2 separate regions of the Homo sapiens genome follow, and region 1 is linked to region 2. A link means that fine-mapping ties the variant in region 2 to the expression of a gene that starts in the linked region. Tissue or cell type: tibial nerve. Region 2 holds a variant in brackets; the other region holds the start of a gene. All regions are shown on one strand. Distances are between the middles of the regions.

Region 1 (8,098 bases), 33 kb before region 2:
TTTCTTTTTCCCCAACTGTTGTTTAAATGAAACAAGTACAAAGAATTAAAAATAGTTCCACTTCTGAAAAAGGGGCGGGGGGGGGGGGAAGATGAAGAAGTTGGTGCAAAGAAGAAAATAGAAAATTCACATCATAAAATCTTAATCATTTTAGAAGGAAGTAAGGTCATCTGCTCAACATGTTTCGAGACTGGGGTTAGCAACCTGACTGGAGTGAAAAAGCAACAGAGAAAATAAGTCAACTTGGGGATAAGAAAAGGATTAGAAAGTAACTAGTATAAAGCAGGTAGAAAACAAGTATGTAATGATCACCAAAAGCGTGACTTTGGGGGAGAGTGTAGGGCAGGGACAAAGGTAGAAAACTGACCAGTTACACCCAGCAAAGGTCAAGGAGAGGAGGGACTATGTGGTCTAGTGAGTTCATGGTTAGAACATGAACTACAGAGTTCAAGGTTGAAAAGAGGGAAGACAACTAATGGCCTAGGAGGGACTGGAGGTGACAATAAGGACAAAAAGCTGCTTAACCAGTTATGACAGAAAAGAGAAAGAGAAAACAGACCCTTGCATCGCCATCTGGCCACAGGGTTTAAGACCTGAGGTAGAGTGGTTCTGAATGATGACAAGTAACATGGTCACAACATGCAGGCTGCTGTTGTAGAGTAGCAGTGGGGGTCACCGGAGTTAGTGAAGTGTAGTTCCAAATGTGGCCATTCTGGCCAGAAATGAATGTAACCCTTACTTAACCTCTATGCACTTCACTTTCCTCAGCTGCAAATATTTAATACATCCTTTCTAGCCTGACTGATAGGAATCTGGCTGGCAGCTAACCCCTCTGCATTTTACTCAACTACAAAATGAAAAGCATAAGAAAGGAGATGGGAAATTGAGTTAAATCAAAGGTTCTCCACCTGACTGAACACTAAAATCGGGGATGTTTTAACAAAGAGGCAAAATTACCTTTGTTCTGTCCCCAAACCCAGTAATTCTGATTTATTTGTCCTGGGGTGGGATCCAGGCAATATTCTTTTTAAGTAGCTCTTCAGGAGATTTTAATGTGCAGCCAAGGCTGAAAACTGAACTAGGTATTCCTACAGGCTGCTTCCCTTTAAAAATTTTTAAATTCTATGATTCTATATAATTCACTGCCACTCTGTTCATTTGTTAAAATAATAGCTACTATCGTATTCCAGGCCCTTCCACAAACATCGAATCTTGGGTGACCCTCACGCTAACACTGAGGCAAATATTTCTGTGCCCATTTCACAAATGAGTCCAGTGAAGCTTACAGAAGTGAAGCGGCTTGTTCAAGAGTCACAAGCCAGCAAGGAGCTGAGTCAGGACAAGGTTTATTTGTTCCAGTCCATCCTACATGCAACTTGCTTTCTTTCCAGTGCATTCACAGCAACTATTTGAATGCCTTTTATTCTCTTCTCAGGACCTCCCTAAATTGAGCACATTAGTTTGTGGTTTACAGTTTGACAGGGGAGAAAGTTATCTTGGGTGGGGGCAGGAAATAAACCCCGAATTCTATAGGCATTATAGAATTACAAAACACCTTAACCTAGAGAGGTTTTCCAACTTAAAACAGCACTGTGAAAGTGTATCCATGAAGTATTTTTTATTCAGTTAAGTCAACACATACATTGCTTTTAAATATTAAGCAGGCAGCTCATGTACAAAGCTGGTTCATCAAAGATAAACAACAACAAAAAAATTTTTCATATACTTTCTATTAAGCAGGGCATTCTAAAAATTCTAAGACAATTCCGGCAAAACAATAATTGATAGAGCTATAATGAGATTTGTTCCAAGAGCTTAAATGTATAAATATGACCTTTAAATTTTTCAAGCATTAACAATATTTCCATCAAGTTCAAATACATTCAATCACACTTAAAATTATGATTATAATCCTTTTGATGATCCATGGCTTCTCTCTCATACATCAGTAATTATACTTTAATCCATTATCTACTTAGAAATTTCATAAATATTCAAGTTCTGTACCCCCAGGCGAAAATTCACTCAGGTACTAAGTTAAATTCTCAACAAAACAACAACAAAACATGTGTGTGTGTGTGTGTGTGTGTGTGTGTGTGTGTGTGTGTATATATAATAAAAACCAATCTGTGGATTTAATGGAGTTGATGGCATGTATTGGGAAAAAGACTACAAAGAAGATTTAACTATGATGCTCATGGAATTTACAATTTCAAAAGAAATTCATGAAGCATATTTACAAGGAACAAACATACGTGTACTCATCCATTCAAACCTTTCCTGAGCATCTGCTATGTTCTTGGCATGCAGGGAATGAAGAGGCAAATCAGACCCGATGTGTTGCCTGCTGTCAAGGAGATGTCATGACAGAATCTATGCGATATTTACAGTAATACCATGGGAGAAATTAATTGATTTCTGGAGAGGGCAAGGGAGTGGAATGAGAGAACAGAGCAGAAAAGGCTTCAAAGAGTATAGGCTTAAGTATTTTTAAGGAAAAAATTTCATCACAAGGATCACCTGTAAATCAGCTCGCTGGGAAATAAGTATTTATACTGAAGAACTAAATTCAAGTCAGAGCAGTGATAAGAGCAAACGAGATGGACAGATTGCTCCAGAAGACTGAGTTATGTATCCTACAAAGTTATGCTACAGGAAAAATGAAAAGGCTTCAGAGTCATAAGATCTCAGTTAAATACCAGTTTGGCTGCTACATTTGTGAAATTAGTTAATTTCATTTCTAAATAAAAAATGTTATAATGCCATTTACTTGACAATGAAGCAAAACTAAAAGAATTTTTAAGAACAACAGAAATTGGCAATACAGCCTGAGCAACATGGCAAAACCTTCTCTCCACAAAATTCAAACAAAAATTAGCCAGGTGTGGTGATGCGCTCCTGTAGTCCTAACTACTCAGGAGGCCGAGGTGGATCACCTGGGCCCCGGGAGTTTGAGGCTGCAGTGAGCGGAGATGACACCACTGCACTCCAGCCTGGGCGACAGACAGAGACCCTGTCTAGGAAAAGGAAAAGGAAGGAAGGAAAAAGAGAAAAAAGGAAAAAGAAATTGACAATCAAATATGAGCAGAAGCTGTATTTTTAGATCTAAAAAGTAAAATTCTCCAAGAATTTGGGGTTTTAGGGCTTACTGTATTTGTGTTTAAGAGCCTTTTCAGTTCATTTAACAGAATTTTAAAGCAAGATGTCTTTATTTAAAAATCATTTAGATTCATTTACTGAGGCTGAATATTTTCTTCTGAAGCTTAGTCACTATACTAGTTTTATTTAGAGGCCGATTACGTGTGCTTTCCAAATAAATAGCTTAATACCATTCATTCCCCGTGTGGTCGGGACCCAAAGAGATTATAATGAAGCCTTCGTTAATACTGAATTAACGTGAAGACCCCACGAGCTGCCAGAGTATTTAAAAAAAGTAAATGCTCAAAACGCGGTAGGCATTCACCCTTAAGAAACTAAAGGGAGGGGAAAAAAACTTCAAACTGTCAAGATCACTTCTTATTCTTAAGAGAACACATGCCTTTAAGACTCTCAAAGTTTCTGTCTAAATCTTTCTTTAATGAGTCTCTTCAGCAACGTACTACACAACACGACAAAGAAGGCATTTATCAACAACGCGTTTTGTGAGTCTATGAATTACCGAGGAGGGCTTAGGTGTCTGTAACCTTCATACCCACTTCCACCGCACACTCAAGTTATTGCTGGAATGTACGGAGAGCACACAAGGCTATTCAAGCAACACCGGCAGCGCGCTCTCGGCCTTCAATCACATTTTTAAAAAGAAAAATAAATTCGTCAAAGGATCATAAAACTTGAAAAGGCTCCAAATAAATAAACCATCGCTTCTATCAGAGCAAGTTCTGCGGGGCCATTTTCGTCTCCCAAGTGACATACAAATATGTAGTTCAGGTCATAAGGTCCCCGACACGCAGACCCTGCAAACTTTTCGGCCAGAAATTTGTCGCGACCCTGAGACGCCCCCGGCCGTGTCCAGGACCCCCGTCCTCAGGCCCCACAACTTCTCGCCCGGCCTCGGGGCTCCTTCCCGCGTCCGCCGGCCCCCGCCCCGCAGACCCGTGGACCGGACCCTACCCGGCGGCCCCCGTCCCCCCGCGGCGGCGGCGGCGTCCTACGGGCGGGCGCGGCTCGCTCCCGGGCTGGCGGGACGGCGGCGGCAACTGGCCCGCGGGCCGGCCCCGGCGCGAGGGGAGCGGCCGGGAGCGCCCCGTTTCTCACAGACCCCAACATGGCGTCGGCCGCCACCGCCCGCGACGACGACACCTCCCGGCGCTGCGACGGCTCCGGGACCGCGGGAGGAAGCGCCCGGAAAGTTTCGCGTCTCCCCTCCCGGCCCGTCAGGAGCCGGCGGACCACCCACCCGGGCTTCACCTACCCCGACGGCCGCGGGCGGCGGCGGCGGCGACAGCGAAGGCGAAGGTCCGATCCTCCTGGTCGCGGACGCAGGGCGCGGACTCTGCCCGTTCCCCGCCGGGGCCTTCCAGGGTGTGTGCTGTCCGCAGCCCCGCGCAGCCGGCGCGATCCAGACGCGGTGGGCGGGCTGGCCGCCAGCGCAGCCGCTCGCAGGTGACTCCCCCGCCCCTCCAGTCGAACCCGACAACGGCTGCCTGGGCTGGCCTCTCCCCTGCGCGCGCACGGGCGCGCCCCCGTCCACACTCCGGGCGCGAGCGCGCGGGCACGAGCACACCCACACCCCTCGCTCCCCGCCCTTTCTTGCCAGTTCCCTCGCCCCGCCCCTCGCGCCCCTCGCGACGCGCTCTAGGGGCGGGGCCTTTGGCGGAGGCCACACCCACTCAGGCCGGCCGCGGGCGGAGCTTGTCCATGTGTGAGGTCGGGACGCGCTCCCGCGACGCGTTGAGGTGCACGTGAGGCGCCTTACCTGACTTTCCTGACTCCGACCAGCCCTTAGAAAGTATTGCTCAACTGTCTACGAAGTTCTTAGGGAGACTGGAATAATAGAAGGAAGACACCTCCCCACCCACAACAGGCCTCCCCGGGGAACTGAAGAACGAGAAAGGCAGGCTTTGGATCTAAATGCCCAAAGGCATCGGTACTGGCATTTGCTGCTCCCATTTAGCACAGCAATCCTTTCCGTCACACTTTCCCTTTGCTTTACCTAAAATCCCTCCTCTTGAAACCAAGGGAACTGCGGCGACACACACATACCCTACGTGCTCCACCCAGCCCTTTCTTTTAAATGCATACTTTAGAATTCTGGTCTTCCCAAAACTTTGACGACACAAAACCCCATCAGCCTACTTCACATACCTAGAAACTGTAATTATTGCATAGTATATAAGGTTAAATGTGCCCTAATTGATCTGATAGCTAAGCGCTCTGATGGGTTCGTAGAGAGGTAACGAAGTTGCTTAGGGTAGACTAGGGATGGGGGCGAAGTAGGGAGAACAGCATACTTATTTTAAACAAAGTGTGTGTGGTGTGTAGGAGGAAATTGGGTTTTGGTAAATTTTATATTTCTTATTCATCTATTACTTCAGTAAGTTGTTTTAACCTGTGTTTGATTGCTGTTGAATTAGAGTCACTACCAGCCAAGCTGCACGTGGATGAGCACCTAGGGATGAGAGCAGACTTGGGTTCCGCCCTGCTCTTCCACCTGGGATCTTCCTCCTCCAGGCTTGTTGCCTCCTATCCTCCCCTATTTCAATAGAGTTTGTCTCTGAAACAAACAAGTCTTTTTTTAAATTAATAATTAGAACAAAATTGGCAAAGATGAACTTTTTTTAAATGGGGAAAATTGTATGATCACACACACACAATCTTTCGTGTGTTAGAGTTGTCTCTAGATGAGTACAGATGTCACCAGGACGCTTGTCCGTACCATCACTCTACCTCATTCACCTCTACGTGCACAGCAATATCTATCAGTGGGGAAAAGGCAGGACTAAATAATGCCTAAAATCCTTTTAAATTTTGAAAGTAGGAATTGCTATGTCTGACTGGTTGTCTAAGGTCAAGCCTAGAGCATTAGTTATCAAATATTTTTGGTCACTCACATTAGTAAAAATGTTTGCCCTCCTCACTTCCCATGTACTTATTTAGCTTAAGTAAAGTGCATAGATAGAAGCCAGAATGACTGTAATCAAACATTGGCTTTGTCTCTAACAACCTTGGCACATCCAAAGATAACTTTGGTTTTTTCACTTGTAAAATGGAGATAATAAAAGTATATCACAGAGTCATTATGCAGATGAAATGAATTAATATATGTAAAGCATATACCTGGCACACAGTGCTTTACAAGTGTGAAATAAAATTATTACATACATAATATACACATTTATATAGTGCTACGTAAGTGTGAAATAAAAGTTGTTACATATGTAATATACCCAGCTACTCAGGAGGCTGAGGCTGGAGGATCACTTGAGGCCAGGAGTTTGAATCCAGCCTGGGCAGCATAGCAAGACCCAGTCACACATACACACAGAATTATATGTATGATATATATAGTGTGTATTTATATACACACATACACCTATTATAATATACCTAGTATGTTAGGTACATTAAAAAACAACATACACACACAAAAAAATCAGAAATAATGATTTTAAATATATATATGTATGTTTTCTTTCTGTACTCTTCATAGTCTATGCCCTCCCTGGGCTGCGTGCACCCCAGTTTGGAGACCGTTGATTTAGATCTGTGCTAACAAATACAGTAGCCACTAACCACATGTCTTAATTAAATGTAAATTTATTTAAATTAAAAATTTAGTTTCTCAGTCACACTGACCACATTTCAAGTGCTTAATAGCCACATGACTATTGGACAGTGCACATATAAAACATTTCCATCATTGCAGAAGTTCTATTGGATAGCACTGACCAATCTGGAACAAAGCAGGGAACTCAAAAGTCACTGAAAGGAAGTAAGATTCACTCCTACCCGAACCTGTAATTGTGGTACCCTGTTCAAGTCAAGTGATAAGACAGCTCTTTGAGCCTCACATCTCAACCGTAAAATGAAGATAAAAATAGGAATTACTGGCCAGACACGTGGCTCACGCCCAGCCCCATCCTCCCACCCGCCCAATTTTTTTTTTTTTTTTTTGAGACAAGAGTCTCACTCTGTGGCCCAGACTGGAATATAGTGGCGTGATCTTGGCTCACTGCAACCTCCACCTCCCAGGTTCAAGTGATTCTTCTGCCTCAGCCTCCCAAGTAGCTGGGATTACAGGCATGTGCCATCATGCCTGGATATGTTTTGTATTTTCTTTTTAGTAGAGACGAGTTTTCACCATGTTAGCCAGGCTGGTCTCAAACTCCTGACCTCAAGTGATCCACCTGCTTCAGCCTCCCAAGGTGTTGGGATTACAGGTGTAAACCACCACACCCGGCCTATAATCCCAGCACTTTGGGAGGTCGAGACAGGAGGATTGCTTGAAGCCAGGAGTTCAAGACCAGCCTGGGGAACATAGTGAGACTGTGTCTCTACAAAACAATTTTTAAATTAGCTGGGCACTTGGAGTCCCATCTCCTCAGGAGGCTGATGTGGAAGGATTCCTTGAGCCCAGGAGGTCAAGGCTGCAGTGCAGTGCAGTGAACAATGATCCAGCCACTGCACTCCAGCCTGAATGATGGAAGGAGACCCTTTCTCTTAAAAAAAAAAAAAAAAAGAAAGAAAAAAAAAGGAACTTCCTCATAAACTGCTGAATGGAGGAAATAAGATAATGTGTAAAGTGTATGACACATTGTTAAAACATAGAGGAACTTGAAAAGATTAGTAAAACTTGAGTTTATATTTCCCCAATTTGTTTTTTTAATTTTTTACATTTGAAAATAAGAGATTGGGTCTTGCTTTGCTGCCCATGCTGGATTCAAACTCCTGGGCTCAAGGGATCCTCCCTCTCAGCCTCTTCAGTAACTGGGATTACAGGCATGCACCACCAAGACTGACTAACCCGATTCTTTAATCCTGAAAGGCAAAAAAGATCACGTTATTGTTCTTGAATCTAACGTGTATCTTGTAAAAGTGAATAGTTTGGTTAAGTTTTAATTGAAAATAGAACATTCAAGAAATGATAGGATGGCAAATA
Region 2 (8,106 bases):
CATTGCTTCTCTGTGCACTTCTGTTACACTCAAAAATTTGACTTGCTCTTACCCTCCATGGCCCCAATTCTAATCTTCTGTCTTTCTGGGCATCCTTTTGTTTCCTGATCCTGTCACTAACAACTTTATTCTCTCAGAGAGAAACTCTGGCTGCCGCAGCTCATCTTTCCCAGCCAGGCCACATGATCAGTGCTGACCAACCAATGTAGTGCTGCTCGAGGGTCAGGTGCCCAGCCTGGAACAATCTACCTTGCTGTGAGGGGGCTGCAGTCACATAACAAAAGAAACACAGAGGAAAGGGTGAAGAGAGCCCAATGGCAACTGCACACACAATGGAGTGTGTTACAGTGGGATGAGGAAGCCAAAGATTAGGAAGCATGACTCTTTTAGAATGGGCAGTTATAATGGCCTTTGCTCCAGAGGGGACACTATATCTTCCAAGGCTGTTCACTACATAAACATCCTTAGACGAGGCTGAGAAAGACAGTCCAGGACAAAAGGAAAGTCAGTACCTTTGTGTTTAAAGGTACTGACTTTGTGTTTAAGTGCAACTGTAAGATGCCTACTTTCATAGGGAGTTACAAATGTAAATGCGTACAGGGACCAGGCAAGTAGGTGTGTGAGCGAGGTGACTAGATATAAGAACTGGGAGTAGTGGGGATTGCAGAAGATAGGAGAGGCCATGCTCTATTTGAAACTGGCAGCCAATACTCAGTTCCAACTGATTATTTCCACGGAAGAATGAGGATCCCAAGTTGTTTCACCTCTTTTTTCCCAAAAGAACTAGGAAATGTGAATTTTTATGTGCTATATCACCCACCCTTTAAATGTTGGTAATGAATTAGAATTTAAAATACAGGTGCAGTGGCTCACAGCTTAATCCCAGTACTTTGGGAGGTGGAGGCAGGAGGATTGCTTGAGGTCAGGAGTTTGAGACCAGCCTGGGCAACATAGTGAGACCTTGTCTCTATCACATTAAAAAATAAAAATAAAATAATGTTAAGTGGCCAAGAGAAAACCCGAAGAAGCAGTGGTTGGAACTGATGGAGCAGCCTTATAAAGGAAGAAGCAGGCTCTGATAGACACCTGATCTCCCCCAAGTGGGTAGTTAAAGCCCTGGTTGATCACAGCCTTAATGGTAAGCCCAATCAATTAAGAGAACAAAAAGCTAGGGATTGTGGAGAGAACTCTGCTAGAATCACAATCCTGTCCTCTTGCCCTACTCCAACTTCTTCTCCAAGAAAGAAAGAATAGCTTATTTTATTGGGAGTTCAGACAAAAGAACCATGCATGCCCGGACTGGCTCACTCCTATCCTTCTCTTTGAGATTTGCCTATCTCCAAAGAAAGTCACTGGATGTCTATGCCATATGTTTTACAGCAGCCAATCTACATAGCAAGAGGGGCAGGAGGTCAGGGAACAGGGTCCTGTGGGCTGTTTAACACTACCAGAGACCATGACACAGGGTCAGCCCCTGAATGTTATTCAATATGAACTTTTCTCAGTAATAAAGCTGACATTTTATTTGCCATCCTACTGATTTTTGAGACAATTTCTCAATTGTTTCTAAATTTGGTTAAGAAAAAGGTGTGGCATTTATTTATCCATTCCAACTCAAACAGGCATTATTATTATTTCCACTTTACAGGTGAGAAAACAGTCATTGATTGATCGAGCTATATCTGGCCCCATACTCTGTTCCTAACAACCACCAGTACAGTAGATTTTTGCCTGCCTATCAGCCATTTCTCCCTCTTCTGGTATCAACAGGTTGATTTTCCTTGGAATTTCCTCCATACATTTGACAGGGGTAAGGTTGACTCACTCACACCTAAGGGCTGACCAATCAGAGCCACAAAACCACCTGAACACTATGATTGGCTCAGGAACAAACATGTGACACAAGCTTGGCAAAACAGAGTCAAACTTAATCTGGCATAATGCTGGGGGACAAAAGTGCTCTCTTTGCATCGGGGTCACCAAAATGAAGGGCTAAAAGCCTGGAGTTGCCACCCACCATCTTGTCGTCATAAGGTACATGAGACTGTAGAGCCTGTAGAGAAAAAAAGGAAAGCAAAGTTGGTGTGCGGCTGTCAGTTTATTGCCTCTCAGCTCCATATTTACCCTTCATCGTTTGTTGAGCAAAAATCTAGCTGGGCCCCAAAGTATTTTTTTACTATTTGTCATGTTATTAAACTTTTTCAGTAGAGGGCGCTGAAGAGACACTGCAGAAGACATACAGTTTGCTTCCTGGTTCCAGTGTGTTCACTGGGAGCATGGCTGCTTCTCCAGTGTCCAGCTCTTGCAACACTGACAGCTCCTCTAGCACCTGGCTCCTTCAGTACCAGCAGCTTACCAGGGCACCTCCCTCAGGTACCCATGGGAAATACTTTCCCATGAATTGCTTTCCTGAGCATCCTAGAGATGAATTTCCAGCAAGTTCCAGGGAATAGATTTCTAGCAAGTTCCACTGACACTGCATAACAGCAACTCCTCTGTCAATCAATGAGACACAGCCATGTGCTCTTTGACAAGTTCTGGGTCTCAACCCAGGGGGTCAGGAGTGGGGGGCCAGCAGTAGCAGATTCTTCCTTAGGTGCTCTATCTCAGCCCTAGGAGAAGTAGTACTCCTTAAATCTGCTATTCCTGCATTCTTTCAAATTCTCTTTATTTCTTACTAGCCAATCCACTGTTATCCCAGCCCCCTGTTAATAGTTAATAATTCTTTAGATTGGCTGGGTGTGGTGGCTCCTGCCTGTAATTTCAGCACTTTGGGGGACCAAGGCATGTGGATCACCTGAGGTCAGGAGTTCAAGACCAGCCTGGCCAACATGGTGAAACCCCCAACTCTAGTACAAATACAAAAGTAGCTGGTTTGGTGGCGGGCACTGTAATCCCAACTACTTGGGAAGCTGAAGCAGGAGAATCACTTGAACCCGGGAGGTGGAGGTTGCAGTGAGCCGAGATCATGCCATTGCAGTCCAGCCTGGGCAACAAGAGTGAGACTCCATCTCAAAAATAAAAAAAAAAAAATACTTTTTTAGATTACACTTTTCCTAATGTTCAAATGATCACGTGGCTGCTCTCTCTTGATGGAACTGTGAATGACACAGATGGCAGGTGACACCAGGCCCTGATGGCACTGGCTGAGCCTGGATCCAGCTGGGTCAGAAGCTGCCTCTTCCTCTGCACTTTTCAGTTACAGAAGCCAATTTTTTTTCTTTACTCGAGTCATTTTGAGTTGGGTTTTCTGCCTCTGTTAAATTGAAGAATCCTGATTACAGAAGCCACAAAAGGGGAATGAACAATTAAGATAACAAGAAATGTTTACCTAGGAAGAGTCATCTTCTGAGGGGATGATATGAAAACTATGCATGTGTCCATCACGTGAAAGCAGAATTTCAACGTTAGGGTGCACTTGAATTATATGACTGTAATATAATTTGTCATATGATGACCAAATTAGGGCCAAGGGGTGGAAGTTACAGAGACAGTTCATCATGACAGCATGAGGAAGAGCCTTCCAGCAATTCAGTGTTCAATAATGGAATGAACTGTCCTGCCCAGCTGTGAGCGCCCTGTCTCTGGAAGTTGGGAGACAAGGAGTGCCCGCCACTCTCAGGTATGTTGTGGAAGAGGTGATTGCATTGGGTGGGAATTGCAACCAAGTAACCAATAAAGTCCCTTCCAAATCTAAGATTCTACTATTATGCTTGCAGAAATTCCTTAGCCTAAATCCCATTAGATGGTCCCAGCTAAGAGAAAACCAGACAAGGGCAACATTGTGCATTATGTGACTCACTTGGGAACTGAGGGTGCTGCCAGATGTTATCATCAGATGAAAAGAAAATGGACTAAGTCACCAGATAGGGGTGTTTAAATAAAGCCTTCTTTGCCCTGTTAAGAACACAATGTATTGCAGGCAATTACTATAAGTAAAATCATTCTGAAAATAAGCACATTAAACACTTGGTTTTAATTTGACTCAAGCATATTTACCTTGAGATTGCTTAAACAAATAGGTAAATTAAAAGTGCTCTGAGATTGGCTTAACCCAAGAAATGGAACATTAAGCTAGGAGGCAGCCAACACTGATTCTATTCCCGCTTTTTACGGTAACCTTGGGGCGAGGGGGGTCGGGAGGGAAGAGAGCAAAATAACTTGGTTTTGCTGAGCTTTGGTTTGTCCAACTGAAAGAACAAACAAAGTAATAGGCACACCTACTTTACAGAGTATGTGAAAGTTAAACAGGAAATGTCTACAAAAATAGAAAACAATGTATTAGTTTATGGACACAATGGATATTTTGAGTCAGAATCTTCATGCAAAGGTTTCTGGGTATAAATCATACTGGAAGCTG[C/T]GTCATTTAGCCAATACTTCCCAACCCCTTCTGAACTAATATAGCTTCTAAAGACGTCCAATCCAAAACTAAGCTAGCTCTCGCATACAGGATAAATTGGTTTAACATAAACAAACATAGAAAGTGAAACTAAGACTTACAGTAAATCAGTAACACAGTATATTCAAAGGCATAATATATTCAGGAAGCAGAGGCAACTTTGCCTCTGACATGGAGTAGCCCTCTAGACCAAACATTTCAGATCATTTCCTTTTCATTATCAATAACTTTTTCCTCTTCTTTAAGAAGAAAAAAATCCAGCCATACCTCCACCACAGTTTTTGTGGAGCAGAACCTGCTTTCAAGTTAAATTGTTCACTTTGTCTTCTATGTACTGTTGTTCTATTTATTTAATTTTTTTTTTTTTTTGCATGCAGACCACATCCTGAGGAGGAAATCACTTTTAAAACCTAATTCTTACGGGTATCCTCATTTCAGGAATGTTTGTGATTGCTCATTTATTCCTTACACAGCATGAACTAAGGCAGGAAATGATTAAGAGGGGAGAAAGGTAGGGAGAGCCCTGGATTGAGTCCCCACTTGGTTTAAATCAATTTCTAGATGAGATAGGCTAATCCTTGTTCAACTCACTCCAAGCCTCACGTATGATTTAAGCATCATTATCTGTAGCCCAGACCAGCACTAAAGAGCCTAGACACACCTGCGCATGTTCTCCCAAAGCCTGGGGCAATGAAAAGGCATCAGAGAAAACATTTAGAAGCTAAACTTCCATTAATGAAGGATTATTTTATAGGCACTTGCAGATGCCGTATTATAGGAAACGATTTAGTGATGAGACAACAGTAGTGGGGTAGTTAGGAATGAGAAGAGCTGAACTTCAAGATGGCTTTGTGCCCCCACCAAGCCCCGGTAAGATGAAGGCTGAAGCTCCATAACTGGGAGTGAGTAGAAAGAAAAAGTAGAACATCCAAGAAGAATCTAGTCTCCAGAAGCTACTGCTAGGGGAGCTCTCCTCTCTGCTAGGGGCAGGCGAAACACTAGGAATCCTTTGTTTATTCTTTTTCTTTCTTTTTCTTTTTTTTTAATTTTGAGATAGGCTCTTGCTATGTTGCCCAGGCTGATCTTAAACTCCTGGGCTCAAGGGACTCCCCTGCCTCAGCCTCTTTAGTAGCTGGGATTATACCATGCCTGGTATAAGAACTCTTTACGCTCAACCCCTTACATGAACTATCAGCAGTTTTGGCCAGATGACAGAAGTGGGTGCAGGCAGAGAATATGGAGGAAGGCACAGATGAGAGTGGCCATTTTTTTTCTTTTCTTTTTTTTTTTTCCAGCTGGAAGCCTGAGAGAATTGGTAGTCTCTGGTGGTTGCCCAGAAGAAAGAATATACTCTGAAAGAGACGCCAGCTTTTGTTTTGTTTTGTTTTTTGAGACAGGGTCTTGCTCTGTCACCCAGGCTGGAGCACAGTGGGGCAATCACAGCTCACTGCAGCCTCAACATCCTGGGATCAAGCAATTTTCCCACCTCAGCCTCCAGATTAGCTGGGACTACAGGCACCTGCCACCACGCCCAGCTAATTTTTTATTTGTAGTAGAGATGGGGTTTCACTATGTTGGCCAGTCTGGTCTCAAACTCCTGACCTCAGGTGATCTGCCTGCCTCGGCCTCCCAAAGTGCTGGGATTACAGGCGTGAGCCACCACACCCAGCCTAGAGCCAGTTTTTTGTTTTTTGTTTTTTATGTTTTTGAGACAGAGTCTTACTCTGTCGCCCAGGCTGGAGTGTAGTGGGGCGATCTTGGCGCACTGCAACCTCCACCTCCTGGGTTCAAGCAATTCTCCTGCCTCAGCCTGCCGGGTAGCTGGGATTATAGATGCGTGCCACACGCCCAGCTAATTTTGTATTTTAACATGGCAATATGATCTACTTTGAATTAGATCCAGTACTTTTGCAAAATGTTCATAGAGTTTTTAATAAGACTTAGTTTTTTTGTTTGTTTGAGACGAAGTTTCGTTCTTGTCGCCCAGGCTGGAGTGCAGTGGTGCGATCTCGGCTCACTGCAACCTCCGCCTCCCAGGTTAAAGCAATTCTCCTTCCTCAGCCCCCTGACTAGCTGGGAGAGATTACAGGTGTGTGCCACCATGCCCGGCTAATTTTTGTATTTTTAGTAGAGACGGGGTTTCACCATGTTGGTCAGGCTGGTCTTGAACTCCTGACCTTGTGATCTGCCCGCCTCGGCCTCCCAAAGTGCTGGGATTACAGGCGTGAGCCACTGCACCTGGCCAAGACATACATTTTTAGTAGAGACGAGGTTTCACTATGTTGGCCAGTCTGGTCTTGAACTCCTGACCTCAGGTGATCCACCCACCTCGGCCTCCCAAAGTGCTGGGATTACAGGCGTGAGCCACCAGCCCGGCCAGAAGCTAGTTTTTAAAGAAAATGGATCACTCCAGATTGGGGTATCCATTGCTTTAAACATCTTTCCCCCAGTTAGGAACGCTCCAGATGTAGCAGTAGAGATTCATTTTGCTTACTCTGTTAAGAAAATTCACTTTTGGAAAGCAAAAGGGACTCCAGATCAAAACATCACCACCAAGACATGAGCTGCTCTCAACAGAAACCTGTTACAAATGAGGAGCTGTAGAAAATAAGGAAACTCCTCTCACCTTTCTTACTGTTGCGTAGCAACCCCAGACAAAGGGATCCAGAACCAACCACAAGTCTCCCTCAAACTGTTGCATGATACTTTCTGCTCCAGTAGGCCTAGAGATCTCTCACTAGCCACAGATGAGGAATTTGCAAGGTATCTGACAGTCATCAGATCCTAAGCTTGCCAGTGCCTTTGCATTTTAGAAGTTAGGTCGTTTGGGAGCATACCAACTTCTAAATGCTTAATTTTCAACTGAAGAGCCACCAATACAGGCAGAAGATGGATTCTGTAACTATATTTTATTTTATTTTATTTATTTTGAGATGGAGTTTCACTCTTGTTGCCCAGGCTAGAGTGCAATGGCGTGATCTCAGTTCACTGCAACCTCCACCTCCCCAGTTCAAGCGATTCTCCTGACTCAGCCTCCTGAGTAGCTGAGATTACAGGCACATGCCACCATGCCCGGCTAATTTTCTGTATTTTTAGTAGAGACAGGGTTTCACCATGCTGGCCAGGCTGGTCTCAAACTCCTGACCTCAGATGATCCACCCGCCTCAGTCTCCCAAAGTCCTGGGATTACAGGCGTGAGCCGCTGCGCCCGGCCAACAGTATTTTAATGTATACTATTCTACATCTATTGTCGAACATTTAGGTTGTTTCCAATTATCTGCTTCTACCAATTAGGCTGTTACCAATAAGGGGTGTACTTTTGCTACATGAAATTGAGATGTCTTAGTTTATTTTTTTGTTATTCATTCTTAGTCTCATTTCATTTGTTGTCAAGGAATGAAGCCTACACCATTCTCCATTTGGAAATTTGAGGCCAGGGGCATCATGTATTTTGGTAATTTCCCATGGACATTTGAAAAGTTGGGACGTTCTCTCTAAGTTCATAATGTACATTTCCAGCCAGAGATGAAAACGTACAAATGAGTCTGTTCACTGGCCCAGGGGCCCAGAGAGTGTGCGTCTCTCCTTAACCCCCTGTTAGGCCTCATTGGGTAGGATCCCACCAGTATTGCTGCTGATGAGCTGCTAGAGGTCCCTGCCTAGCCCCTGGAGGTCTCCTCTCTGAAATTGCACAACATCTCTGCCTC

Which allele goes with the higher level. Positions count from the first base shown, and alleles are read on the strand shown. Sizes are in standard deviations (SD) of each study's normalised expression.
As copies of C replace T in region 2, the expression in tibial nerve of the gene that starts at base 4,657 in region 1 goes up (small effect, 0.38 SD a copy in GTEx).

What was found. PIP is the estimated chance that this variant, and not a neighbour inherited with it, causes the effect.
Region 1: PLEKHF2 starts here. The variant in region 2 is fine-mapped to the expression of PLEKHF2 in tibial nerve (GTEx, PIP 0.97).

Annotation. Positions count from the first base shown.
Region 1 is chr8:95,130,344-95,138,441 of GRCh38, reverse strand. It overlaps PLEKHF2 (pleckstrin homology and FYVE domain containing 2), which reads right to left and starts at 4,657. Exons shown (of 2, transcript NM_024613.4): 1 at 4,412-4,657. RefSeq lists an enhancer at 434-583 and silencers at 4,096-4,255, 4,276-4,915.
Region 2 is chr8:95,096,923-95,105,028 of GRCh38, reverse strand. It overlaps a transcript of NDUFAF6 not described here. Among named protein-coding and RNA genes, the nearest start is that of MIR3150BHG, 28 kb to the right of the region's middle. RefSeq lists enhancers at 4,145-4,204, 4,535-4,624. The variant C/T (reference allele first, on the strand shown) is at 4,361.